Homo sapiens: one gene and its partners. The protein of the gene in region 6 purifies or fractionates together with the protein of the main gene of each other region. This does not show direct contact. Each region holds a gene or a part of one and is shown on either strand. Other genes may lie near its edges.

Region 1 (3,500 bases), on a different chromosome or scaffold from region 6:
CCACTGTGAACTGGGATGATCACTGTCAGCAAGTAGTCACCAAGCTGCTGGGATTGGGGTGGTGTTTGTAAAAAGTTAATCTGGTGCAGGGTGGCATAACACATAAGAGTCTGTTTCTTTTGAGATATTTGGCAGAGGTTCCTAATGTGCTTGGACTCTGGAGCCACACTGCTTGACTTGAATCTGGCTTCTAGTATGTCAGGCAAGTTTTTAAGCTCTCAGTGCTTCAGTTTCCTAACTTCTAATATCAGGATAATAATAATAGCAATTTTATATGGTTACTGAGGGGATTAAAACTGTTAATCTGTGCATATTAGTTAGGGTAGTTTAAGTTGCTGTAATAAGTTATCCCCCCACAAACAGTGGTTCAAATATGATGGAAGTTTATTTCTCACCCCTCAGTCCAGGAGAATGTCTTAGATGTTAGGGTGGCTTTCCTCCTCAGAGTCATTAAGGGACCCGGGCTCTTTCTAGCTTATTTGTCCACTAACTCCCAGAGCATTGTCCTCTTCTGAATTGTCAAAGTTGGTGGGTGACAAGTACTGTCTGTTGCCAGTGGGGGGTGGAAAATATGGAGGAAGCACATCTTAAGGGCCCCAGCTCAGAAGTTCTACCTGTTACTTCCGGTCACATTCTATTGGAGAGAACTTAATCACATAGCTTCATCTGCAAGAGAGGCTGGCAAGTGTGGTCTAACCGTATACCATCCTATGTAAAGCTTTAGGAAGAGTGCTTGACACATAGTAAACACCTGCTTTTGTCATCGATAATAGTTTATTATTATTATTTTTTTTTGAGACGGAGTCTCGCTCTGTCGCCAGACTGGAATGCAGTGGTGCAATCTTGGCTCACTGCAACCTCTGCTTCCCGGGTTCAAGCGATTCTTCTGCCTCAGCCTCTGGAGTAGCTGGGACTACAGGCGCGTGCCACCATGCTCAGCTAATTTTTGTATTTTTAGTAGAGATGGGGTTTCACCGTGTTGGTCAGGATGGTCTCGATCTCCTGACCCCATGATCTGCCCGCCTTGGCCTCCCGAAGTGCTGGGATTACAGGCGTGAGCCACCGCGCCCAGCCTAATAGTATATTATTTTTAAATGTGGGCTCTATTAGTAGGATCAGGGAGTTCTGTAAATCCTTGAAATTACAGTAAAAAATTCTAATGTGAGGCTTTTTTTCTGGAAATTCCTAAACCAAGGCTAAGAACCACTGTTCTAAAAGAAGTAAATAGTGGAATTCTTAGAGTCAAGAATACTTTATATAAGCAAGGTATAAAAGAAGGGCTTGGGCTAGATGATCACAAAGGTCTCTTCTAGTTATTATTAACTATGACTTAAAGAATGTACCGGCATGAACTAAGTGCTAATACTGAGTTAAGTACTATGGAAGATATAAGAAATTATTAAACAGTTAATTTCTTTAGGTTTACAAATTTTATTGGAAAGAAAACAATACAAGATGGTCCATGCTTAAAGAGTCAAGTGGGGCTCACATTAAGTAGGGCTAGGAGACATGGGGAAAGATGGAAGGAGGCTTAAACTTGACCTTGAAAAAGGAGGTGAATAGGTGGGTTCGGAATAGCCAAGAATGGGAATGTGAGTTTTGACATTATGTGGAAACTCCTTATGCAGGAAACAATTGGTAGATTGATACCTAAGAAGGAACCAGGAGTGATTCAGATCTATAGTGCCAGGGAGACAAGTTATTTAAAAGTTGAGGATGAGACTTTTAAAACCTAACTTGGGTTTTTGTTAATGTATACATTTTCCTAACTTTTTTCATTCTCCCCACACTTTCCTGTGTTTTTGGATTGCTGTCTGTTTAATAACTTTTCAGTGGCACTTGGGAAGGTGCAAATGGATTGTACAGATGGACTGTTTTGACAGTTTAAAGTGGGAATTCTTTATATTGTTTCAAGGACAGGCTTCAAACTTCCCCCCGTCTTTGTTTTTTCTAACAGAAAAAAATGAAATAAATTTTCTATAGGAAATGATGCTGAAAACTGTTCTGGTAATTAACAAAAGCTAACTCAATATTCAGACAATATTACCTTGAATCTAATTGATTTGCCATTCATTTGAGGTTTCCGGGGGGAAAATTCAGGAGACAGAAATGAATGTAAAGTATGAAGTTAATGAAAACCTATTATTTTAACTTTTTGCCTGAGCTGTTCCTGAAGACCTAATAATGCTACTTTTGGCAAAGGCCAAATTTGATGATTTTGGTTTAATGTAAAAACCTGTGAGAAAGGAGCCTAGAATGGGGAAGAGGCAGGAGGCTTTGAGCCTAGGAGACTGAGCACACGAAAAGCTTAACAGAGTATGAATAATGATAGGAAAGAGGCAATTGGGAGAAGAACCTGGCTGTCAGGAAATGTCACAGTTGGTTTGGGAAGATGCCTGCAGAGGTGCCTAGAAGCCAGTAAGTAAGGATGGTGAGCCATCCTTTTCCGCTTCCTGTTTCGTTAGAGCTGTGGAGCCTCCGTGTTCTGATGTCCCCTGAGTAGGGAATTGTGAGTCCATAAAAGGAAAATGTGTTAGGCAGGATGGGAAGTGTGATTAAGGCATGAGTTAAGATTTTGGTCAAGTAGAGGAGTAAGCTAGGATGGGTTTGCCTGTTTTAGACGCTTGCATAGAGAATGGAAAGGGACTTTCTGAAGGAAAATGACATTAGGTCATGGTTACCTATTGTCCAAGGATGATTTAAGACATGTAAATGTAATTTAGGGCATCAGCTAGTGAATTTTCTCATGGCTTTTAATTATATTGTCTATTTCGAGACTTGCCTCTTATCTCTCAGTGGTCAGTTCCAGATATTGGTATAAGAAATAAGAAATAACAATGATAGGCCCACTGCCATGGCTCACACCTGTAATCCCAGCACTTTGGGAGACCGAGGTGGGTGGATCGCCTGAGGTCAGGAGTTCAAGGCCAGCCTGGCCAACATGGTGAATCCCTGTCTCTACTAAAAATACAAAAATTAGCTGGGCGTGGTGGTGGGCGCCTGTAATCCCAGCTACTCGGGAGGCTGAGGCAGGAGAATTGCTTTAACCTGGGAGGCGGAGGTTGCAGTGAGCTGAGATTGTGTTACTACACTCCAGCCTGGACGACAGAGTAAGACTCCGTCTCAAAAAAAAAAAAAAAATTATAGGCTGGGCAAAATAGTGAGTCCTCATCTCTATAAAAACTAAATTTTTGTATTTTTAGTAGAGATGGGGTTTCACCATGTTGGTCAGGCTTGTCTTGAACTCCTGACCTCATGATCTGCCCGCCTCGGCCTCCCAAAGTACTGGGATTACAGGCGTGAGCTACCACTCCTGGCCCCATCTCTACTAAAAATACAAAAATTAGCTAGGCATGATGGTGCACGCCTGTAATCCCAGCTACTCAGGAGGCTGAGGCAGGAGAATCTCTTGAACCCGGGAGGCGGAGGTTGCAGTGAGCTAAGATCACACCACTGCACTCCAGCCTGGGCGACAGTGAGACTCTGTCTCAAAAAAAAAA
Region 2 (3,500 bases), on a different chromosome or scaffold from region 6:
GTACTCTACTTTTAGATTTTTTCCAACTACTCAACAATGTAAAAATTATTCTTACCGCTGTGGGCTGTACATAAAGGCAGTGGACCATGAGCCGATTTTCAGACCCCTGTTTTAGGTCCAGATCTTGGGAGGCCATGTGAAGACTTGGGCTTACTCTGAATAAACATTGGAGGGTTTTGAGCAGAGGTGGGAAGTGATCAAATTTAAGTTTAAAAAAGAAGAGTTTCAGCTGTTGTTTTGAGATGAAACTGGAGGTGGAGCATGCCTTTACTGGTTGCATTCTGAGGGAATTTGAGCGGTAAATGGCATTTTACTTGGTAGCCATATAGAGGACAGTAAGAGTTGTATGCTTTTGAAATGTAAAAAACTTTGTTCATTCAAAGCATTTGTTTGGACCCTATTGAGATTGAAGTGTAGAAAAGCATCAGAGGTTTTTCATTGGTGAAGCTAATGATGGAAAATAATTGAGCTCCTTACTACAGCACAATTATGAAGGGTGCTTTATGTTTTTGCAATAGAGACTTATTAGTGAAGATGATGCAGGAGCCATGACCCAGCCAGCATGGTTGGTGGAGATAGCACATGCTGGTGGAGTCACTTTACTTCTGGGCTACACCCATACTGGGTGCTGGGTCTCTTACCAGGTATAGCAGACACAGCCCCACCCTCCCAGAGCCTATCTGCCTTTTATGAGTCTCCATCCTTGAATTGAAGATGCTGAAGAAGGGTATAAAATAGTCTGCCTAATTTGGAAAAGACAAACTTGAGACTTTACAGATTGAAACATTTTTTAAAGGCATTTGAAGATGGAATGTTCTGTTTTTAGAACTTGTTTGATAGGCGAAACCTGAAGTACATGCAGTGTTTCACTGATGACCGGGGTGCTCCATTTTTTCATAACAAAATTTGGTGGCATCAACTTTCGAAATCAACAGGGCAAGCTACTGCTAGCCTTTAGGACAGTTAATAATGCAAGTTTTCATATTGTTGTGGGGAAAGTAAGCTGTTATTTTACAGTTAAAGATAATTATTTGTAAACGTGTGGGGCTAGTCTTTATTATATTTTTAGATGCTGAGATACTAGGCATCTGTTGTTCTACAGATCCAAAATAATAATTGTCTTAATTTGGAATACAATGTTTGCTGTTAAAAATATTCCCAGGGTATATGGTGACAAGTAAAAGAGTTACACACCCATGGGAAGCCTTTCAATAATTAAAATAGTGCTGATGACAATACCTGTTTAGAAAACTAAACAAAATTTAGAATGTCGAAAGGAAAAACTTCACAACACAAATTAGCATATAGAGGGTATTCAAGGCTAATTTGTTGTCTTTCCCTTTATGGTTTGTAGGTAAGATTTTTTACTGCTGTGGAAACTACAGTCTCTGTGGGAAAAAAGTACGTAATATGCTTAGGTCTTACAATGTAGAAACTGAAGGCTGTAGTAAGGCAGTGAGTTGGTTTTCTGAACTAGGGAATTAGCTGTGTTTTACAACACTAGAAGATCCTCATTGTATTTGTTTATCATAAACAGAAGACCCTAATAGTGATAAAGAGTAAACTCTTAGTTAGTGCTGCCTATTCTCACAGTTCCTCTTTTTCGTATCTGTTTCCTAAATTCAGCTCCTAATGTCTGGACTCAGTGTGGTGCTTTGGCATTAAGGAGACTGGAAGGCCTCAGAGCAGCCCCAGAAGCAAGGTCGTAGAAACCATCATTTATCTTCCCCAGCGCAGATCATAGAAACTAGAACTCCTCTCCTGCAAAGCAAGCCATAAAACCTAGAAAGATCACTCTCTCCCTTTTGCCTTCTCTTGAAGACAGCATTTCAGAGGGGCCCTGCCTCATTCCTGGGGGAGGAAATGCTGTGGCCCTGCTGGGTTTCCCTCAGTCTGCTACCATTGGATCATTTCCTTTTGTCCAGTGCCATTTCTACACAGCTGTGCATTGGTCATCTAAGCATCAAAACCGTTTCCCTGGGTCTTTGGGTCTTCATTTCTGAAGGCTCTTGTTAACCTGTCTTTTGTTACAGGAGTATCTTCCATGACCTTTATGATGGGTGAGGAAAGCTGCCACACCTTTCCACTCTGACACTGTCTTGTATTTGCTCCTTCATACGAGCCTCTTACAAGGTCTCTCCAATTCAGTCATGTGCTCTTCTAGTGTTTCCTTAGCTGTGCCGGTAATTTTGGTAACTTGTAGGAAGGGTCTGTGTTTTAAACAACTTTCTGTCTTCAGGTTAGGGCACAGTGCTTGGCACATAGAGTTGGCATACAAAATATGTTTGTTGAATAAGTCATATTACCCTTTTCCATAGGACTTTCTATTTCTCCTCATAGTGGCTACGCAAAGTTCAAATGTTGGCCCAGTGTTTTAGGGCTCCTGTATACCAGCCCGTCAGTTTCCAGACACTGGCTCTCTGTACCTGAAGCATCGCAGCCTCACCTGCTTAGTGCCACAATCCCTCTGAGTTAAATGCCTTTCCCTTCCTCTGTCCATTAAGATCCTGATCATCCTTTTAATATCATCTCTAATCTTTCTTTTTTCTGGTAAGAAATTTTCTTATATCTTGTTTTTGCTTTGTAGCATCGTTCTTTTTCTGTGCTGCTGTAGTGTATTGTTTATCAGCATTCATTTTCCCACTTTTATTATAATAAATATAATAAATAAAGTGGAGATAGAGTTCAGCTGAATGGCCAGTGATTCAACCCATTGTGTCTCCCTCCGAAAACCCCAATAAAACCTCAGAGCACTATGGCTCTGAGGAGCTTCCTGGGTTGGCAGTGCTCTTTGAATATTGTCTCATGTTGATGACAGGAGAGTAAGGTGTCCCAGAGGACAGTGGAGCTACCTGTTAGGGAACCTCCCAGAATGTGCCCTATAGGTCACTTGCTTTGGCTGTTTTGTTTGTTTGTTTGTTTTTGTTTTTGTTGCTGTTACTATAATGAAATTGTAATGGTAAGTGTTCTGCTTTCCTGAGTTTGGGGAGTAATTCTAGGGAATTATCAAACCTGAGGGAGCCCTGGGGAACCTGGATTTCTCACTTGCTGGTCTAAAGTAAGGATGGCCCTGATGTCGACATCGTGGTCTGGAGAGTGGTGTCCCTGACCTTGGGCTGCTAATGCCTGGATCTGTATCCCTGGGCTCAGGGCTTTGCATGTGATCGCTCAGTAAATGTTGGTGTTGAATCGCTGTTTATGCTTAAATGCATGTTTGTGTGTTTGTGTATTGTTTTGTGAAACAGTAGTCATCCTTATGTGTGATATACTTGAAAATACATACAGTTGACCCTTCAGCCACAGGGGTTTGAACTTTGAAGGATTTATTCGAGGAATTTTTTTAATCAAGCACAGATGGAAAATACCGTGTTGTCTGAATGAGAAACCCATCTGTATGGAGGGCTGACTTTTCCTATACTTGGGCTCCACATTCTCAGGGGCCAACTATAGGACCTGAGTATGCACGTTTTGGTATACTGGGTAGGGGTGGGAGGGTGTCC
Region 3 (3,500 bases), on a different chromosome or scaffold from region 6:
AAACTTACATCTTCGAAATAAATGACAAAATACATTCCTGATGGGTTAAAAAAATAAGTTTAGAGAATGAAACCATGAAAATACTAGATACAGATGATTATTTATACAATTTTGGAGTAGAGGAAGATTTTTCTTTAAACCTGACACCAAAGATAGAAAAACTATGAAGAAAAAACTTCTGCTACATAAATTACACAAAATGGAAAACTCCTAGACAACAACCAAGAAAAGGAATTACAATCAAAACTAGAGTATACAACACAGTAGGGGGAACAACTGCAATATATTGGACAAAAAGTCCTTAATATGTAAATCACCTGTAAATATCAATAGGAAAAGAATGAACATGCTAGAAAAATAGGCAAAAGGCACAAAGCAATAATCCACAAAACAAGGAATTAGAATGGTCAAATAACATACGAAAAAATATTCAGGCCGGGCGCGGTGGCTCACGCCTGTAATCCCAGCACTTTGGGAGGCTGAGGTGGCAGGATCATGAGGTCAGGAGATAGAGACCATCCTGGCTAACACGGTGAAACCCCGTCTCTACTAAAAATACAAAAAATTAGCCGGGCGTGCTGGCGGGCGCCTGTGGTCCCAGCTACTCAGGAGGCTGAGGCAGGAGAATGGCGTGAACCCGGGAGGCGGAGCTTGCAGTGAGCCCAGAGCGCGCCACTGCACTCTAGCCTGGGCGACAGAGCGAGACTCTGTCTCAAAAAAAAAAAAAAAATTTCAACCCGACGCCCCCAAACAACAAAGAAATTAGAATTCACATAAAATCCTTTGTTAACTAATGTGCAAATAATGTTAAAAGTTGGCAGTGTTAACTGTGTTAGTGTAGAGGGGAAAATCACAATCATGTAATACAAGTGTAAATCAGTACATTTCTGGGCAATAGTTTGATGGAATGTACCAAAAGCTTTAAAAAGTGCTCATTGCTTTTGAAAGAACAAGTCCATTTTCAGCCACTCCAAAGGTAATTGTGGATGTATGAAGGGCTTTTACGACAAAGACATTCACCAGTGTTGCTTAGAACAATAAAACACTAGGAACGACATAAATATCCAACAATAGAGAATTGTTTCTCTTCCTACAATGTAATAATACGATGGAACTCCTAAAAAAGGATATACAGAAATGTATACACTTAATTATATATACGTATTTTTGACAAAAGATTGGAAAGATATACTCTAAAATGTCAGCAGTGGTTCTCTCTGGGTACATGGGTGTGTGTGTTTTTTTTCAGCTTCTCTGCTTGTCTAAGGAAAAAACTTGATTATTTTGTAAAAAGAATAAAAGTCATATTGAAACACCTACTGTTACTGGAAACTTTTCACATTGTAAAGTGACTTTCTAAAGAGCTGTTCCACGTCTCCATCTGACTACGATAAATTCAGTACATTTTTCTTTGGCTTTACTGCCTTAGTCCTGTTTGCTAGAACAGCAATATTGGGATTAAGACGCTGTTTCTCACAAGTGCCTCCGCCTGGCAGGCTCCATTTTTTTCTTTCCATTTACTTCAAAATCAACAAATCCCAGTTGACTTGGAGCCTGAAGGGACGCAGGACAGGAAGTTAACGCGTGGGTGAAGCTGCACAGAAGTGGGTAATTCAAAGGAAAGATGAATGCCAGCCGGACAGAAGGTCTGACCACATTGTCAACCAGAAATGCCCAAGGGGATTTCCATTCCAAAGAACAAAAGCTTCTTAGCACCATGGGGCTCTCTATTATTTTAAGCACTGAAATATCACTAAGGCTGGAGAGAAAAAATGGATGGTGGAGCTAGCTGCAAGCGTTAAGTTTTAAAGTCAGCAAAGGATCAATCACCTATCAACAAAAAAACACCATCAACACCCTTTAAATCACCAGTGAGGCAGAGAAACACCATCTCTCCACGAGTCCCACACAGCCAAGTCTAGCCTCCCACACTGGAACAGACGGATCTTTCTTTTGCTGAGCACCGGATGATAAACAAGGAGCACTGAACATTCTACAGACTCAGCATGGGGGCATCGGGGACAGGAGGCCGACCAGTGAAGAAGGAGAATTTCCAGGACTCCCTTCTCAGGCCCACTTGCAGGCATACGTTCACCAAGTAAGGGAGTCGGCACAAGTGCCCTTGCCATTCGCCAGCATTTTCCCCGTTTTTGCTTTTGTTTTGTCAGAGCAGGTAGCTGAATTTGCAGGCATTAAATACAAAATGAAACACTGATGAGGCTGCCTCTGCAGTCAACAAAACAAACCCTGCAAAGTTTCCTTCTTGTTCTGTGTGGCAGTCAGCGTGGGGGCTCCTCACTTCCATGCCATCCCTGAGTACCCACGCTCAAGTCTGGGAAACTGACCTCGGCTCCAGAGGAGGCATGGCTAAATGGTTTGGGGGTGATCCTATTTCTCTTGCCAGTGATTGGTTTAGGAGCAGGCACAGTATATCAAATCTGAACAGGAAGTTTGCTGGAAGATTCTAGGAAAGTTTTTCTTCTGCTCCTAAAAAGAAAGCAAAAAGGGCCGGGCACGGTGGTTCACGCCTGTCACCCCAGCACTTTGGGAGGCTGAGGCAGGCGGATCAAGTGAGGTCAGAAGTTCAAGACCAGCCTGGACAATATAGTGAAACCCTGTCTCTACTAAAAATACAAAAATGAGCTGGGCGTGGTGGCATGTGCCTGTAATCTCAGCTACTGGAGAGGCTGAGGCAGGAGAATCACTTGAACCTGGGAGGCGGAGGTTGCAAGTGAGCCGAGATTGCAGCACTGCACTCTAGCCTGGGCGACAGAGCAAGACTCCGTCTCAAAAAACAAATAATTTTTAAAAGTTAATAAAAATACTAAAAAAAAAAAAAAAAAAGCTGAGCGTGGTGGCAGGCGCCTATAATCCCAGCTACTTGGGAGGCTGAGGAAGGAGAATTGCTTGAACCCGGGAGGCAGAGGTTGCAGTGAGCAGAGATCATGCCAGTACACTCCAGCCGGACTGACAGAGTCTCAAAAAAAAAAAGCAAAAAGAAGTCAGCATCTCCTCTCCTACCAGATGGGATTGTGGGAGCATGTGGCCCCACCTGCTCCTGGCAGCTCTCCTGCAACCTTGAGGGGACTAGTTCTAGGAGAGGTACCCGCAGAGAACAACAGAACGTAGAAAGAGAAAATGTGGGGAGCTGGTGAATCATCTAACCTTGAAATCTTTCCCACCTATAGAATGCCTGCTCTGTGAGCTAAAAGATTCTATAACTGTTCAAAGTAGTTGGGTTTTCTGTTATTTACAGATGAAAGAATCATAAATCACTACATTACCAGTAGAACAGAACTAGTCTAGATCCCCTACTGCTATGTATTTAAGTTCTGATATGAGAATGTAGTCTCTCCGATAACAGGTAAAAGCACTGGCTGGGGAAGACACGTCACGTGAACACAGACTCTACAAAAAAAAGACAGGCAGCCCTCACTCTCCTTTCACCAAAGATGCCTTTAGACAGAGGCTTTTACTGGTTCTGGTATAATTACCTGACT
Region 4 (3,500 bases), on a different chromosome or scaffold from region 6:
ATACTCTTTTGTTCCTTTTTAATGTTTTAGAGTGGGCAAAACATGACTTTTTTTTTTCTTAAATTGCAAATAGACTAAGTTTATTCAAAAGAAATCTCCATAGGCTGAGAGCCCTGGACCCTGGTGCCCACGGGGTGGGGACAGCATCAGGGCCCAAATGGAATCACAGCTGAGCCTCAGCCAGGCCCAGCAGCATATCCTGGGCTGCATCTGTGACCAACACACTCACATCTTGCCGTCTTAGACCCCAAACATTGACCATCCAGCTGGAAGGGATGCCAAGGCTGTCTAGCGTGACACACCACCACTCTGGGGTGCCCAGGCATGTCAGAGAATGTGGGTCCCAGAGCTGCTGCCCACCCTTTGTGGAGGTGCCCTCTGCAGCTCTGTGTCCCCCGGCTTGCAGGCTGCCCCTTTCTGGGGATCTCCATTACCCACACTGGGGGCTCACCCTATGGTCCAAGAATATGCCCCATGATTCCAGCTGGGGCTTTATGTGCACATGTCCCAACCTGAGGAGTAGGTGGAGCCTTCCTAAGTTGTCCAAAGGAGTCATTGATCCAAGAATTGAAGAGCCATGGACCCACAGGGAAACCTCCATTCCTTCCCCTGGTACGAACAGGCCTGACTTGGCCTCCACCTTTCCTGCCCACTCTGTTCATCTCTCTCTGTCACTAGGCAGCCAGGCCACCCTTCCCTACCCAGTGCTCACATGCTCATTCCTTCCTCAGGGTCTTGTCCCAGGCTTTGCCCCCCTCCTGACACACCTGCCCCCACACTCATGCCAGTGAGACCCTGCCTGCCCGTCCTGCAAGACCCACTGGGTGACACCTCCTCCAGGGAGCCCTCTCTCCCAATCCTGCCCTCTTAGAAGTGTTAGGACTTCGGGCCTCACCACCAGCTGCCACCTGCACCTTGGCCTGTTCCTCAAACCAGCGAGAACATCCACCAAGGGCTGCTGTGAGAGCCAGGGAGGGGACAGTGAGGCAAAAATCCCCTGGGAACTGGAAAAAGAAGCCTGTGTCTCTCACCCTGAATTCCCTATCCTCTGGGAACACAGAGAGCTACATCTCTGCCTCTGGCCTGAAGTCTTTCTCACAGAGTTCCTCGACTAGGCCCTGTGCTAGCCCAACAGGTTCCCTGAACTTGGAAAATAACAGATTTTTCCAAAACTGAGTTCTTTTTTTTAAAAAAAAAGTTAATGGAGAGTGGGGCAGGCCTGAGGCTAGACCCAGGGCTAGCCGAATGGACCTTTCTGAGTGGAGCAGGAAACGGCACGTAGAGGAGGCTGGATTCCCAGCTGAGAAAGGAGGAGGGAGGATCCTGAGGCAGGCTGTGACTCCAGCGCCGGCCAGGAGTGTCACCAAGTTCCTTTCATACCCCGCTTGCTCTCGGGAGCCCACATGGACACCTCCACATGCCCAGAGGCCCAGGGGCCCTGAGGAACAGGAAAGCGAAGGGACCTGCGGGCCAGGAACAGCCTGAAGGGCCCTGGAGTCCATCCACATCAGGAGACACTCGTATGTCCTTCCCTGCTCTGGCCTCCCCATGAGTTTGTGAGTAACAGGAGGGTCAGAACATCCGCCTGGCCACAATGCAGGCCAAGAGGATGACAGGAGATGCTGAGCTGACATCCTTTGGCAACTGCAAAGCTCTCTGCCCTCAAGGGAGGATGAACATCATCGTCGTCATCCTCTCCAGGGCCCCCTGCAGAAGAGACCAGCCTAAGCCTTGCAGAGCCTCATGGAGCAGAGTCAAATGGCTCAAGGTCTGGGTGGAACTAAGGTCCAGCTCCAAGGAAGTTGGGATGAGATGGGTAGAGGATAGGGGGCAGGTCCATGGCTCTGAACCCAAAGATCTGAATCCCCACCCTCCCCACGCCTCCAACCCTCCTCAGGGTCCCTGTCACCCCATCCACTCACTGGACCTTCAGAACACCTTTGTGAGCTCAGAGGGGCAGAGAGACTTGTCCTATTTTATGGATGAGGAAATGGGCCCAGAGAGAGGCAGCTAACTTTCCATAGCCACACAGCACATCCTGTCCTACTACATAGGGAGTCATTCTCTCAACTCTCAGAAAACAGAGAAGGAAAGGGAGAGACAAAAGAGAAAAAAAGTCGAGCTCCTTTAAATTGAGAACGGCAGCCCTGATCATACCCTTTGAATCAGAGAAAAAAGTGAGAGCTTGGCCTCTGCTTCCCCATAGAGCATCCCATCAGTGTGCAGACTCAGCTTGGTTCCCTGAAGTCCCCTCCAGTGCTTTGTTCTCTGGCCCACCTGGGCACCTGCAGACAGGGCCCCTCCTGGGCCTCCGTGTTCTGAGCTGCCACTGGACGAACCTAAACTCTGCTCTGCCCGTCGCAGAGCAATGGATGGAGGCTCACCAGAGACTGCACTTGGAGTCCGACAATCCCTAATTCCACCCCTCTCAGGGCTGGCCAGGGTCCCCTTCTCCTTTGCCGAGGGTTCTAGACTCTCCTGGGATAGAGAGCATCTGACAGGGCAGTGTGAGGTCCAGATTCCTCCCCTTCCCTGGAGCAGCCCAGTGCAGCTCCTGCTCCCACTTAGAGCCCAGGTGACAGGGACAGCCACCTGGTGCAGGCTCTGCGAGACAGGCTGCTCATGACCGCTCCCCAGTGACTGAAGTCACAGTGGGGATCAGGCCACATTTCTTTCCAGGACTCGCCCCAGCTCCACTACCAACTCGTTGTGTGGCCCGGAAACAGCTGGCTGTCTTCTCTGAGGCTCATTTTCCATCCCGAAGATGAGAGGAAATGACCTCTAAGGGCCCCTTGGCTTTGACGCTCTAAATTTCCATTTGCTCATCTAGCTGGGTCCTCCTTCCTGCTGGGGCACCCTCAACCTGCTGTGGCTTCCTCTTTAGATAGGCACCCACCAGTTTCAGATAATTCACCGCAGAGATGGTGCACCCTGCTCCCTGACTCTCAAGAGGCACCACCTCAAGCCTCATACATGGCCTCAGGGCCCACAACCACCCAGGCTGTGGAACCCAGCTCTGTGGCAGAGGGGCCAGGAGGTGGGGCAGAAGGCCTCTGACGTCCCCAAGGGAGGGATGCACTTTCTAGCCTCATCTATGGCCTGGGTAGGTGGAATCCATGCCGAGTAATTCAGCCTCTGGGAAAATCTTCATTTGCACAATTACTTGGCTGAAGTCACTTCACAAAAGATTCACCATAAAAATCCCCTCCAACAGCCAGCCCCTGAGCACACTGGCTGCCTCTAAGACGATGAGTCCTTGGTGACTTGAGGAGCAACAGAATTTGCATATAGGTCCAAGTGACTCACTGTGGCATTCAACCAAGTCACTTCCCCTCTCTGGGTCATTTTCCTAATGTGCACACTGCAAGGCTGGCCCAGAGGATCTGGGGGAAGGCAGGTGGCGGGCGGCTCCTAACTCTGAGGTCCTATGGTTTCCCCTGGCTCCCCACTCCACCCCAGCATCATCCGGGAAGTTTTGCTTGTGTGTGAGGAATGGCCCA
Region 5 (3,359 bases), on a different chromosome or scaffold from region 6:
CCAAAGTGCTGGAATTACAGGCTTGAGCCACTGCGCTCAGCCTCTTTCTTTCTTTTTAAATGTTCTTTCATTTTGCCAAGAACTGGGTTTCTGTTCCTTTTCCAGGGCGACATGGAGTCCAATGGGAAATACATCACCAAATCTGGAACCCGTGTGGACCACCAGACAGGCCCCATTGTGTGGGGGGAGCCAGGGACCAATGGCCAGCATGCTTTTTACCAGCTCATCCACCAAGGTAGGCCCCTGTGGCCTGGGAAGGGTGATGTTGGGGGAGGGAAAGGATCTTCCAGAAGAGATATCTCACTTAGGTCAGTGCCCTCCTCTAGGCCATATGGCTAGCTCCCATGGGCTGGGGTCATGTGGGTGACCACAGTGCCCTTCACAGGCACCAAGATGATACCCTGTGACTTCCTCATCCCGGTCCAGACCCAGCACCCCATACGGAAGGGTCTGCATCACAAGGTAAGAGCCCCCATCTGGCCCCATCTGGGGGGTCTGGCTCACATTGCACCCAGACCTCTGAAAACCTGGTGCATTGGTTGGCAATCACGTTAGTTTTCTATTCCTGCCGTAACAAATGATAACAAACATGGAGGCTTAAAACAACACTCTTCTTTTGTGGGGTGGGGAGGGGGGACAGAGTCTTGCTCTGTCGCCCAGGCTGGAGTGCAGTGGCACGATCTTGGCTCACTGCAACCTTCCCCTCCCGGCCTCAAGTGATTCTTATGCCTCAGCCTCCCAAGTAGCTGGGACTACTGGCACTCACCACCATGGCCAGCTAATTTTTGTAGTTTTGGTAAAGGGGGGGTTTCACTATGTTGGCCAGGCTGGTCTTGAACTCATGACCTCAAGTAATCTACCTGCCTCGGCCTCCCTAAGTGCTGGGATTATAGGCATGAGCCACCTTCCTGGGCTATCTGAAGAGTTTCTGAAGCTCAAATATCCAGCAGGCCCTGATGTGTCTCTGCTTAGAGTCTTGCAGGCTGAAATCAAGGTGTCATCAGGACTGTGTTTCTTTCTGGAGACCTTAGGGGAAAAGCCTTTGACCTGCTTGTCAGGTGGTTGGCAGAATTCATTTCTCTATGGTTGTGGAACTGAAGTCCAGCTTCCTTGCTGTGGGCTGAAGGTCGTTCTCAGATTCTCAGAGGTCACCTGCATCCTCTAGCTTGTGGGCCTCTTCACTGCAGAACCAGCAATGGCAGGTTAAATCCTTCTCTGAAGCTTTGATTCTGTCTTGCCACTTCTGTTGCATCTCTCTGACTTGTTTACCTTCCTCTTCTACATTTTGCTTTTGTTCCCTAAGTGACAGTGTCATGCTGTGTTGTCTAGGCTGGACTTACAGTGGCATGATCACAGTTCACTGTATTCTCAACGTCCCAGGCTCAAGCAGTCTTCCTGCCTCGGCCCCTCAAATAGCTGAGACTTACAGGCACTAACAGGCACTTACAGGCACTTACAGGCACTAACAGCCTGGCTAACTGTTAAACTTTTTGTAGAGGCCAGATTTCACTATGTTGCCTAGGCTGGTCTCCAACTCCTGGGCTCAAGTGATTCTCCTGCCTCGGCCTCCCAAAGTTTTGGGATTACAGGCATGAGCTACCGTGCCTGGCCCTCTTTTACTTTTAAGGGCCAGTGTGATTAGATTGGGGCTACTAGATAATCCAGGAAAATCTCCCCTTTTGTTTATTTTATTTATTTATTTTATTTTAGAGATAGCATGTCACTCTGTTGCTGAGGCTGGAGTGCACTGGCCCAATCATAGCTCACTACAGCCTTGAACTCCTGGGCTCAAGCAATCCTTTTATCTCAGCCTCCTGAGTAGCTGGGACCACAGATGTACAACATGCCTGGCTAAGTTTTTTTTTTTTTTTAAAGAGACAGAGTCTTGCTCTGTTGCCCAGGCTGGGGTGCAGTGGCACAATCAGGCTCTCTGCAGCCTCACCCTCCTGGGCTCAAGCAATCCTCCTACCTCAGCCTCCTGAGTAGCTGGGAACAGGCACACGCCACCACACCCAGCTGATTTTTTTATTTTTATTTTTTGTAGAGATGGAGTCTCAGTATGTTGCCCAAGCTGCCCTCGAACTCCTTCAGAGAATTTACTGTGCTTTGTCTCAGGTGTGCAGAGCAGCACAGGGTTACGGTAGCACAATCTTGGGAGTCAGTGAGCTGGATTGAATTCTGATTGTTCCTGTCTATAGTTCTGTGATCCAGCACTGTGGACTTGTGGAACCCAAGGCTCTACTAGAACAGGGCGATGATGCCTTTCCTCCTTAGGATCTTAGTATTATTTTTTTTTCGAGACACCGTTTCACTTTGTTGCCCCGGCTGGAGTGCAGTAGTGTGACCTTGACTCACTGCAACCTCAGCCTCCTGGGTTCAAGTGATTCTCGTGCTTAAGCCTCCGGAGTAGCTGGAATTACAGTTGCACACCACCACGCCCAGCTACCTTCTTAGGATCTTAAAAGATAGATGTTGGTAAAATTGTGAGCAGGACCCCTAGCAAGTGGTGTGTAGTTCTTTTTTTTTTTTTGAGATGGAGTCTAGGTCTGTCGCCCAGGCTGGAGTGCAGTGGCGTGATCTTGGCTCACTGCACCCTCTGCCTCCCAGGTTCAGGTGATTCTCCTGCCTCAGCCTCCTGCCTGATGACAGGCATGCGCCACCATGCCCAGCTAAATTTTTTTTTGGTATTTTTAGTAGAGACGGGTTTCACCATGTTGGTCAGGCTGGTCTCGAGCTCCTGACCTCGTGGTCCATCCGCCTCGGCCTCCCAAAGTGTCGGGATTACAGGCGTGAGCCACCGCGCCTGGCCACTGGTGTGTAGTTCTTAAAGAGCAGTTATCACTGTTCCCTGCCTTGTGGTGTCATCGGATGTGTCCCCCTCGCTCCAACTGAGCTGTACAGCGAGTGACCCAGGCTGGGACTGACCCCTGCTGAGAAGTACCAGGCGGTCTTGTCCCTCTGCCTGAAGCCCAGACAGTGCTCTCAAGCATAACTGATGTCTCGCTCATCAGATCCTCCTGGCCAACTTCTTGGCCCAGACAGAGGCCCTGATGAGGGGAAAATCGACGGAGGAGGCCCGAAAGGAGCTCCAGGCTGCGGGCAAGAGTCCAGAGGACCTTGAGAGGCTGCTGCCACATAAGGTCAGCACTTCTGCATTTGGCTTTGGGGTGCATGCTGGAGTTGGAGGTGTGAAGCTATGGCACCAGGCAGGGGCTTGGGGCGTGCCTGGCTTGTCCTACAGAATGGGAGGGCCTGTCCTCACAGACCTGCACGTCTCAGCCTCTGGGGCAGGGTGTGCTTCCCTTCAAGGGGTTTAGGGATCAGGACTCTCTTGGAGACATTCCTTGGTGTTTTCTGCA
Region 6 (3,500 bases):
AAGGACTGCCATTCTCCCCACTTAACAGATGAGGATGCCGAGGCACAGGAAGTGAAGTGACTTTCTCAGGGTCAAGCAGGGAGTGAGTGGAGGAGCCGAGATTCCAGCTCTAACCGCATGATGCTCTATACAGTGTGACTCCGGCTCTCTGGCTGGGCCCTCTCCATAGCCCTGTGAGGGTTAAGGATAGAAAACAGAGGCTCAGAGAGTTGAGGTCCCTTGCCTGAGGTCACACAGCTGGTTGGCCGTTCCCTGGGCTATAAGCTTCAGTATTCCCAATGCTGAGCATATTTTGAGAACCCGAGAAACAGACGTTTGGCTGGGTGGGAACTGAACTCATTTTGTCAGGGAATTCAACAACTAAGTTGGCCCTGAGACTGGGTGTGAAGACCGCTCTGTCCCCTGCCAGCTGGATGACCTCAGGAGAGATCTGATGACTCTGAGGTCCTGCTGATAGGACCTCTGGTGTCTCTGTTCCCTGCTGGCCTCCCCTGGGCCTGGGTTGGGTTTCCTCTGCAGGAGGCAGCTCATGTATGTGCTCCTAGACGCCCTTGGGCCAGCAGCTCCTTGGCTGTTCCTCCCTGAGCCAGGGCAGCCAACTTTCTTATCCAGCTCTCCATGCTCCCCACCCCAGCATGAGATGTCAGCTGAGAGTTTTCTGGATCTCCCCTAGCTAGGGGGAAAGCTTCCATCATTTGGAACAGGAACAGCAGGAACAGCAAAGTCCCTTTCCCCACCATCTCCCACTGCCTGCTGTGCTTCTCCTAACAGCTCATGGTAAACACCCTGACTGAGCGGCAGGGGCTGTTTCCTTTGGGCTATCCATGTCCACCTACACTGCCCTTTTTAATCCTTACAATTTTTCTTGGACACGGGGGCATAATATTCCATTGTTTTTCAGTTGAGGAAACTGAGGCTCAGAGAGGTCAAGTGTCTTGTCTGAGGTCACACAGCAGAACTGGGAGTCAAGCCAGATGGGCTGCCTCCAAGGATCCTACTCTTAAACTCTAGAGTACTAGAAAGATCTTCCGTTGCCTAATATTGATTCCTGATAGGCTATGCTTGAGTAGCATCTGCTTTTGAAAATGGAGCCTGGGTCGGTTGCGGTGGCACATACCTGTAATCCCAGCACTTTGGGAGGCTGAGGTGGGTGGACACCTGAGGTCAGGAGTTCGAGACTAGCCTGAGCAACATGGTGAAACCCTGTCTCTACTAAAAATACAAAAATTAACTGGGCGTGGTGGCACCTGCCTATAGTCCCAGCTACTCCGGAGGCTGAGGCACAAGAATTGCTTGAACCCAGGAGGTGGAGGTTGCAGTGAGAGGAGATCATGTCACTGCACTCCAGCCTGGGAGACAGAGCGAGACTCCATCCGTCTCAAAAAAAAGAAAACGAAAATGGATCCTGAATTTTGAAATATGCTGTGACTCTTCCCTAGTTTGGGACATCTGGGTCAATCCCTTTTGTTAAAGTAGTTTATTTAGTTGGCTGAGAGCGGGAGCTGCCTACGTGACCTGGAGCACAAGCTTTGGAATTGGGCTTGGGTTAGAATTCCGCCTCTGCCACTCACCAGCTGCGATTAAGAACAAAGATACTGGGTTGGGCTCCTGCCTCTATTACTTGCAATCTGTGTGGCCTTGGATGAGATATTTAACACCTCCGAACCTCAGTGTCCTCAATTGTGAAAGAGATCGAGATAACAGCTGAACCCACATCCCAGGAGCGGATTAAATGAGATAGTGCAGTACAGAGTTTACCGAAGTATATGGGGTCAGCAGCCAGCCAGTAAAATGGTGGCTAATGGTTATCATGATTAATGTTAACATTAAGCTCTGAAAGGTCCTTCGTGAACTCATAGGTATTTGTTCTCTCTCTCCCTTTCTCTCTCTCTTCCCCCTGCCCCCTTGCAGGTGGAACTGCATGTCCACCTAGACGGATCCATCAAGCCTGAAACCATCTTATACTATGGCAGGTAAGTCCATACAGAAGAGCCCTCTCTCCCTGGGATTTGAGTGGGGTCCCCAGCTCCACCCAGAGGCCCCTGGGGAATTCCAGGGTCACTGTTCCTTCCTGTCTCCCTGTGGGAATCAAGCCAGCTCCAGGCCAGAAGTGGGACTGTGAGGACATGGAGGCCTCAGCACTGAGCTGGAGACCCGCAGACCAACTCCTGAGCTTTCTGGGCCTCTGAGTCTTGTCCTCCTGGTGTCAGGTGAGCCAGGCCTGAGCCTGCTCTCCCCACCCACCCACATACGTGCATGAAGGTAGTTCCCAGGGCTGAATCCGTCTTTTTTTTTTTCTTTTGAGATAGAGTCTTGCTCTGTCGCCCAGGCTGGAGTGCAGTGGCATGATCTCGGCTCACTGCAACCTCCACCTCCTGGGTTCAAGTGATTCTCCTGCCTCAGCCTCCTGAGTAGCTGGGATTACAAGCACATGCCACCACATCCAGCTAATTTTTGTATTTTTAGCGGAGATGGGGTTTCACATGTTGGCCAGGCTGGTCTCGAACTCCTGACCTCAAGTGATCCACCCAGCTTGGCCTCCCACAGTGCTGGGATTACAGGCATGAGCCACTGTGCCTGGCTCCTGTCTTTTGACTTAACTGAGAGCCTATATATAGCAGGTGATGTGCTCACATGAGATGCCAGTACAATTTCTTGAGCATCTCCTAGAGCTGGGCTGGGCTTTATCAGCTCATTGAATTCCTCCACGCTTGGAAGAGGAGGATACGCTCTCTGCATTTTACTGAGGAGGGAATGGGCTCAGCCAAGACAGTTGTCCACGGTCACACAAATTAATAGCAGATCAAGAGTTGAACCCAAGGCTGTCTGACCCCTAAGGCTTTACTACATCATCAGGGTCATAACCTGCTAGGAGTCACGGAAAAGTGGCTCCCCAACTCTGGGCCTAAATCTCTGCATCTTCCAAGTGAGAACACACTTCCTGCCTCAGCTCTCAGAGATGCTAGGGGGCCAGAGGGTCCCCCTGTTCCCCAGCGAGGAAGGTTCTTCCCTTCCTACCCAGACCTCAAGGGCTCACAGCAGCTCCTCTCTTAGGACCAGCTTTTAAGGGCAGGGACTTTAAAGGCCAGTGGATCTGGATTCAAATTTGGACATATTATCTCCTGTCTGCGAACTTGGTCTCTATCAACTGAGGCTAAGAACAGGCCCTCCCTAGAGAGATGACCTAGGAGCTAGGGGCTCCTTGTCCACCCAGCCCTGCCCCCGCAGACCTGTGTTCCTCGGATGTTTGCACAACACTCATTTTGTTTGGAGCTGAAAGAACTCAGCCTCTCTGTCACAGTCTTGAAATTCAGCTCGGGACCCAAATTTGAACATTTCTGCTCCATAAGCCAGAATCCTGTTATTCAGAGGCCTGCCCTCATGGAGAGAATGAGGGATCCCGGGGGGTTGCCCCCAACTCTCGGGAGCATCTCCACCAACTCCCTGAGAGATTTCTGGTAAGTCCACTATTCTCCATCTTTTCGCACTTCCAGGGACCT
Region 7 (4,065 bases), on a different chromosome or scaffold from region 6:
CATCAGACGATGGGTCCCCCACCCGCCCTGGAACCGGGGCCCCAGCAGCCGCATGCAGCCTCCGGCCTCCCCCTCCGAAGGCTCCTGGGGGCTGCCTTCCACTGAGTGGGTTTTCCCTTCTGCAGTAACTGCCAGGCCAAAGCTGAATTGTAAAAGTTGCGAAATGATGGGCCGGGCGCGGTGGCTCACGCCTGTAATCCCGGCACTTTGGGAGGCCGAAGCGGGCAGATCACGGGGTCAGGAGATCGAGACCATCCTGGCTAACACAGTGAAACTGCGTCTCTACTAAAAATACAAAAAATTAGCAGGGCGTGGTGGCGGGCTCCTGTAGTCCCAGCTACTCGGGAGGCTGAGGCGGGAGAATGGCCGGAACCCAGGAGGTGGAGCTTGCAGTGAGCCCAGATGGCGCCACTGTGCTCCATCCTGGGCGACAGAGCGAGAGTCCTTCTCAAAAAAAAGTTGCGAAATGAAGAAAAGTCTTGGAATAGAGCACAAGGCATTTTAGCTCTGGGGATTTTCTTGAAAGGAAATTGTGTTTGGGGGGAGTTATGCCTCACACAACCCCCTGGGTACCAGTCCTCGGGCGGCCAGGGGGTTCACAGCTCCCCACCCCAAGGCTAAGGGGTCACCTGGCCTCTGCAGGCGGACAGAAGGGCTTCTGCCCTCGCGGATGCGCGCCCTGGCCTGGCCACACCTTCCGGCCTCCCTCCCCCGGGTCCGGGCGGGGAAGAGCCGCCTCAACGGCAGGGCCCATCCGCGAGAGGCCAGCGCCCCCGGCCGGTCCAGCCCAGGCCCGCCGCCTCCGCCCTGGGCTGCTCCCTCCGGGCCCTGCACCGCCCTCCTGCTACTTGGACCGCTTCCTCACGCCCTTCTCCACCCCGCGCGCCAGCCTCCCGCGCGCAGCGTGGGGATCTCGGCCAATAAAGGAGAAAGGGCGCGGCCCGTACGCGCGCCAGGTGCGTGGGCGAGACCAGCTCACGCCCCTCCTCCAGCCGCCAAGGCCCCGGCCCACAGCTGCCTGGCTGCAGTCAGAAGCGTAGCCCGAGACAAGGAAGGGCGCCTTGACTCGCACTTTTGTCCGGTTCGAACGTTCTGCTCAGTGGTGCGTGGAATGCGAGCGCGTCTTAAAATCGATGGCGCCTAGGAGTCCATGAAATACGGTACAGGCTTCCGGCGACGGATGCCCCGCCCCTCACCCACGCTCCGCCCTCCGGGGATGCCCCACCCCTCGTGGCGGTCCCGCCCGTCCCCGCGCAGGCGCGCTCGGGCTGCCGCTGGCTCTTCGCACGCGGCCATGGCCGACTCCGAGCTGCAGCTGGTTGAGCAGCGGATCCGCAGCTTCCCCGACTTCCCCACCCCAGGCGTGGTATTCAGGTGCACGCACAGGCCGCCCTCGTGGCGCCCCGACCTGCGGGCCTACGGATGGGAGCGCGTGGCCCGCGACCTCCGGGCGGGCGGGGCGGGAACCCTCGTCTTTCGCCCCCGGGGCCCTGCCCTCCTTCGGCCCCGGCGTCACCAGGCCTGTCCTTGGGTCCAGGGACATCTCGCCCGTCCTGAAGGACCCCGCCTCCTTCCGCGCCGCCATCGGCCTCCTGGCGCGACACCTGAAGGCGACCCACGGGGGCCGCATCGACTACATCGCAGGCGAGTGCCCAGTGGCCGCATCTAGGGCGCTTCCGCCTCTGCGCGCGCCGAGGGCAGCACGTGGGCTCTGCGCGTCTGCTTGGGGGAGGGCCTTTGGGGTGCTTCAGGGGGCGCCGGGACGGGCGCCGTGCTTGGGTCGCCCGGGAAGGGTTGTGAGATTGAGCCCCCGAGGCCGCCGCGCTGTGCAGGCGTCCTTCCCGCAGGTTCCGGGTCCCCAGCCCAGGACAGGCGTGACCGAGTTGCCGGGTCAGTTGGTCTCCCTGGAGTGCCCAAGCTGAATCCACAGGGCCCAGCTGCCTTGCTTCTTGTTCCTTCTGCGAGCTGGTATTGAGCGCCTGCCACGAGCCAGGCCTTCCCTGGTGAAGATCACGGAATGCCCACCCAGGGAAGGGAGGCCTGGAGGCCTCCGGGAGAGCCCAAGAGGTGGCCCAGGGAGAACAGAGTGTTCCTGGCCGTCTTGCCTCTCCTAGGGTGTGACAGCCCACTCCCTGGACACTGCCCTGAGGAAAGCGCCAGCTCTTGCTGGAGCCACAACACTGCCAGAGCTCCCTTCTCACCTCCTGCAGGAAGCCCTCCCTGACCTCCTGCCAGGCCGGGGCAGGGTTTCCCTGAGCGTCCCCCAACCATCACAGCTCAGGCCACCTCGAGAGACTCCCTTTTTAGACAGAAGCCCTGGTGCAGAGCTGCCTTTGAGAGTAAGCTGAGGCCTGTCAGGTTTCTACCAGCCCAGTTACAGATGGGCTGCTCAGCTCAGAGAGAGGGGTGGTGACTCCCCTAGGAACACACAGCTAAGAAGTGGTCCCTTAAAAGACAGACCCAGGTCTGCACTCTGACCTGGAAGCAGCTCCGGGTAGGTGATGGGTAACATTCCTTAAATGGTGCATGTCACTGGCCTTTCAGCTGGGAGCCAACCAGGTACCCCTTGCCACCGGCCAACCCTGGCCCCTGGGGATTCCCATGCTGCCGAGTCACTCCTGTCACTTACCCTGACAGGCCTAGACTCCCGAGGCTTCCTCTTTGGCCCCTCCCTGGCCCAGGAGCTTGGACTGGGCTGCGTGCTCATCCGAAAGCGGGGGAAGCTGCCAGGCCCCACTCTGTGGGCCTCCTATTCCCTGGAGTACGGGAAGGTAAGAGGGCTGGGGTGGCCAGAGGAAGGGCAGGGCCAGGCCACCGTGGCCACTCTCCCCCAGTTCTAAAAGGCCTTCCCAGGCGTGTCAAGTGGAGCTGCTGTGGTTACAGTGGCCTTGGGAGCTCAGAGAGGTTGAGACATAGGCTGGGCTCACACAGCCAGGTAACAGCAAGGTGGGGTTGGAGTCAGGGTCTAGGGTGGCAGCTGCCAAGCTGTGCAACAAAGCTGTTTTCTGCGGGAGGCTGAGGACCACACACCACTTCCCACTCCAGGCTGAGCTGGAGATTCAGAAAGACGCCCTGGAGCCAGGACAGAGGGTGGTCGTCGTGGATGATCTGCTGGCCACTGGTGGTAAGGGTCTCCCCGCAGCCAACTGCTGTGGCTCCAAGGGCCTGGTGGGAGTGGGACAGGACCTCGCTGTGTGACATGGGATGCAGCTTACTGTTGTCCAGAGGGTGCCTGGTGGCCAGGCCGACACCTTCCTCTCCCCATGCCTTCCCCTCCCCAACCCAGGGGCTGGCCTGGAGCACCTGCTCTCTGCAGCCCAGGCCAACTGGGGACCTCACCCTCCCATCCCCAGGAACCATGAACGCTGCCTGTGAGCTGCTGGGCCGCCTGCAGGCTGAGGTCCTGGAGTGCGTGAGCCTGGTGGAGCTGACCTCGCTTAAGGGCAGGGAGAAGCTGGCACCTGTACCCTTCTTCTCTCTCCTGCAGTATGAGTGACCACAGGGCCTCCCAGCCCAACATCTCCAGCTGGATCCCAGGGAAATATCAGCCTTGGGCAACTGCAGTGACCAGGGGCACCGGCTGCCCACAGGGAACACATTCCTTTGCTGGGGTTCAGCGCCTCTCCTGGGGCTGGAAGTGCCAAAGCCTGGGGCAAAGCTGTGTTTCAGCCACACTGAACCCAATTACACACAGCGGGAGAACGCAGTAAACAGCTTTCCCACAAGAGCCGTCTCCTGTCCTCCTGTTCCCCAGGGCAGGGAGCCCCAGGACAACACCAGACTTCAGCTGTACTGTGGGCATGTGCTGCTTGGCGTGATGCCCAGCAGAACCTGTCCTGGTTCTCACCTCAGGAGCTAGAACCCTCCAGGCACTGCAGGAAGAGGCCATGTGGGCCCATCTTCTAGGGGAGCAAGCGAGGGCTCTTCTGCAGATCTAGTGGCTGTAAGCATGACTTTATTAGAGTTTAGGAGGTCAGAAATACTGAAGTCAAGGTGTGGGCAGAGGCCAGTCCCTTCTGGAGGCTCCAGGGATGTCCTACTTGTCCTGCCCAGCTTCTCCAGGCT

The links.
Region 1: the proteins of ADA (region 6) and CLIC4 fractionate together in Homo sapiens (co-fractionation; one large-scale study listed by BioGRID). This does not show direct contact.
Region 2: the proteins of ADA (region 6) and ACP1 fractionate together in Homo sapiens (co-fractionation; one large-scale study listed by BioGRID). This does not show direct contact.
Region 3: the proteins of ADA (region 6) and GLOD4 fractionate together in Homo sapiens (co-fractionation; one large-scale study listed by BioGRID). This does not show direct contact.
Region 4: the proteins of ADA (region 6) and ADORA2A purify together in Homo sapiens (affinity purification with western blotting, with the first as the bait; one study listed by BioGRID). This does not show direct contact.
Region 5: the proteins of ADA (region 6) and GPI fractionate together in Homo sapiens (co-fractionation; one large-scale study listed by BioGRID). This does not show direct contact.
Region 7: the proteins of ADA (region 6) and APRT fractionate together in Homo sapiens (co-fractionation; one large-scale study listed by BioGRID). This does not show direct contact.

What each region holds. Positions count from the first base shown.
Region 1 is NC_000001.11:24,751,947-24,755,446, forward strand, and holds part of CLIC4 (chloride intracellular channel protein 4), read left to right. Parts: intron 1-3,500. UniProt on the Homo sapiens protein: In the soluble state, catalyzes glutaredoxin-like thiol disulfide exchange reactions with reduced glutathione as electron donor. Can insert into membranes and form voltage-dependent multi-ion conductive channels.
Region 2 is NC_000002.12:267,947-271,446, forward strand, and holds part of ACP1 (low molecular weight phosphotyrosine protein phosphatase), read left to right. Parts: intron 1-3,500. UniProt on the Homo sapiens protein: Acts on tyrosine phosphorylated proteins, low-MW aryl phosphates and natural and synthetic acyl phosphates with differences in substrate specificity between isoform 1 and isoform 2.
Region 3 is NC_000017.11:772,281-775,780, forward strand, and holds part of GLOD4 (glyoxalase domain-containing protein 4), read right to left. Parts: coding exon 3,495-3,500; intron 1-3,494.
Region 4 is NC_000022.11:24,434,099-24,437,598, reverse strand, and holds part of ADORA2A (adenosine receptor A2a), read right to left. Parts: intron 1-3,500. UniProt on the Homo sapiens protein: Receptor for adenosine. The activity of this receptor is mediated by G proteins which activate adenylyl cyclase.
Region 5 is NC_000019.10:34,396,196-34,399,554, forward strand, and holds part of GPI (glucose-6-phosphate isomerase), read left to right. Parts: intron 1-105; coding exon 106-235; intron 236-385; coding exon 386-462; intron 463-3,011; coding exon 3,012-3,140; intron 3,141-3,359. UniProt on the Homo sapiens protein: In the cytoplasm, catalyzes the conversion of glucose-6-phosphate to fructose-6-phosphate, the second step in glycolysis, and the reverse reaction during gluconeogenesis.
Region 6 is NC_000020.11:44,634,700-44,638,199, reverse strand, and holds part of ADA (adenosine deaminase), read left to right. Parts: intron 1-1,911; coding exon 1,912-1,973; intron 1,974-3,500.
Region 7 is NC_000016.10:88,809,129-88,813,193, reverse strand, and holds APRT (adenine phosphoribosyltransferase), read left to right. Parts: upstream 1-1,265; 5' UTR 1,266-1,294; coding exon 1,295-1,374; intron 1,375-1,537; coding exon 1,538-1,644; intron 1,645-2,637; coding exon 2,638-2,771; intron 2,772-3,045; coding exon 3,046-3,124; intron 3,125-3,353; coding exon 3,354-3,496; 3' UTR 3,497-3,855; downstream 3,856-4,065. UniProt on the Homo sapiens protein: Catalyzes a salvage reaction resulting in the formation of AMP, that is energically less costly than de novo synthesis.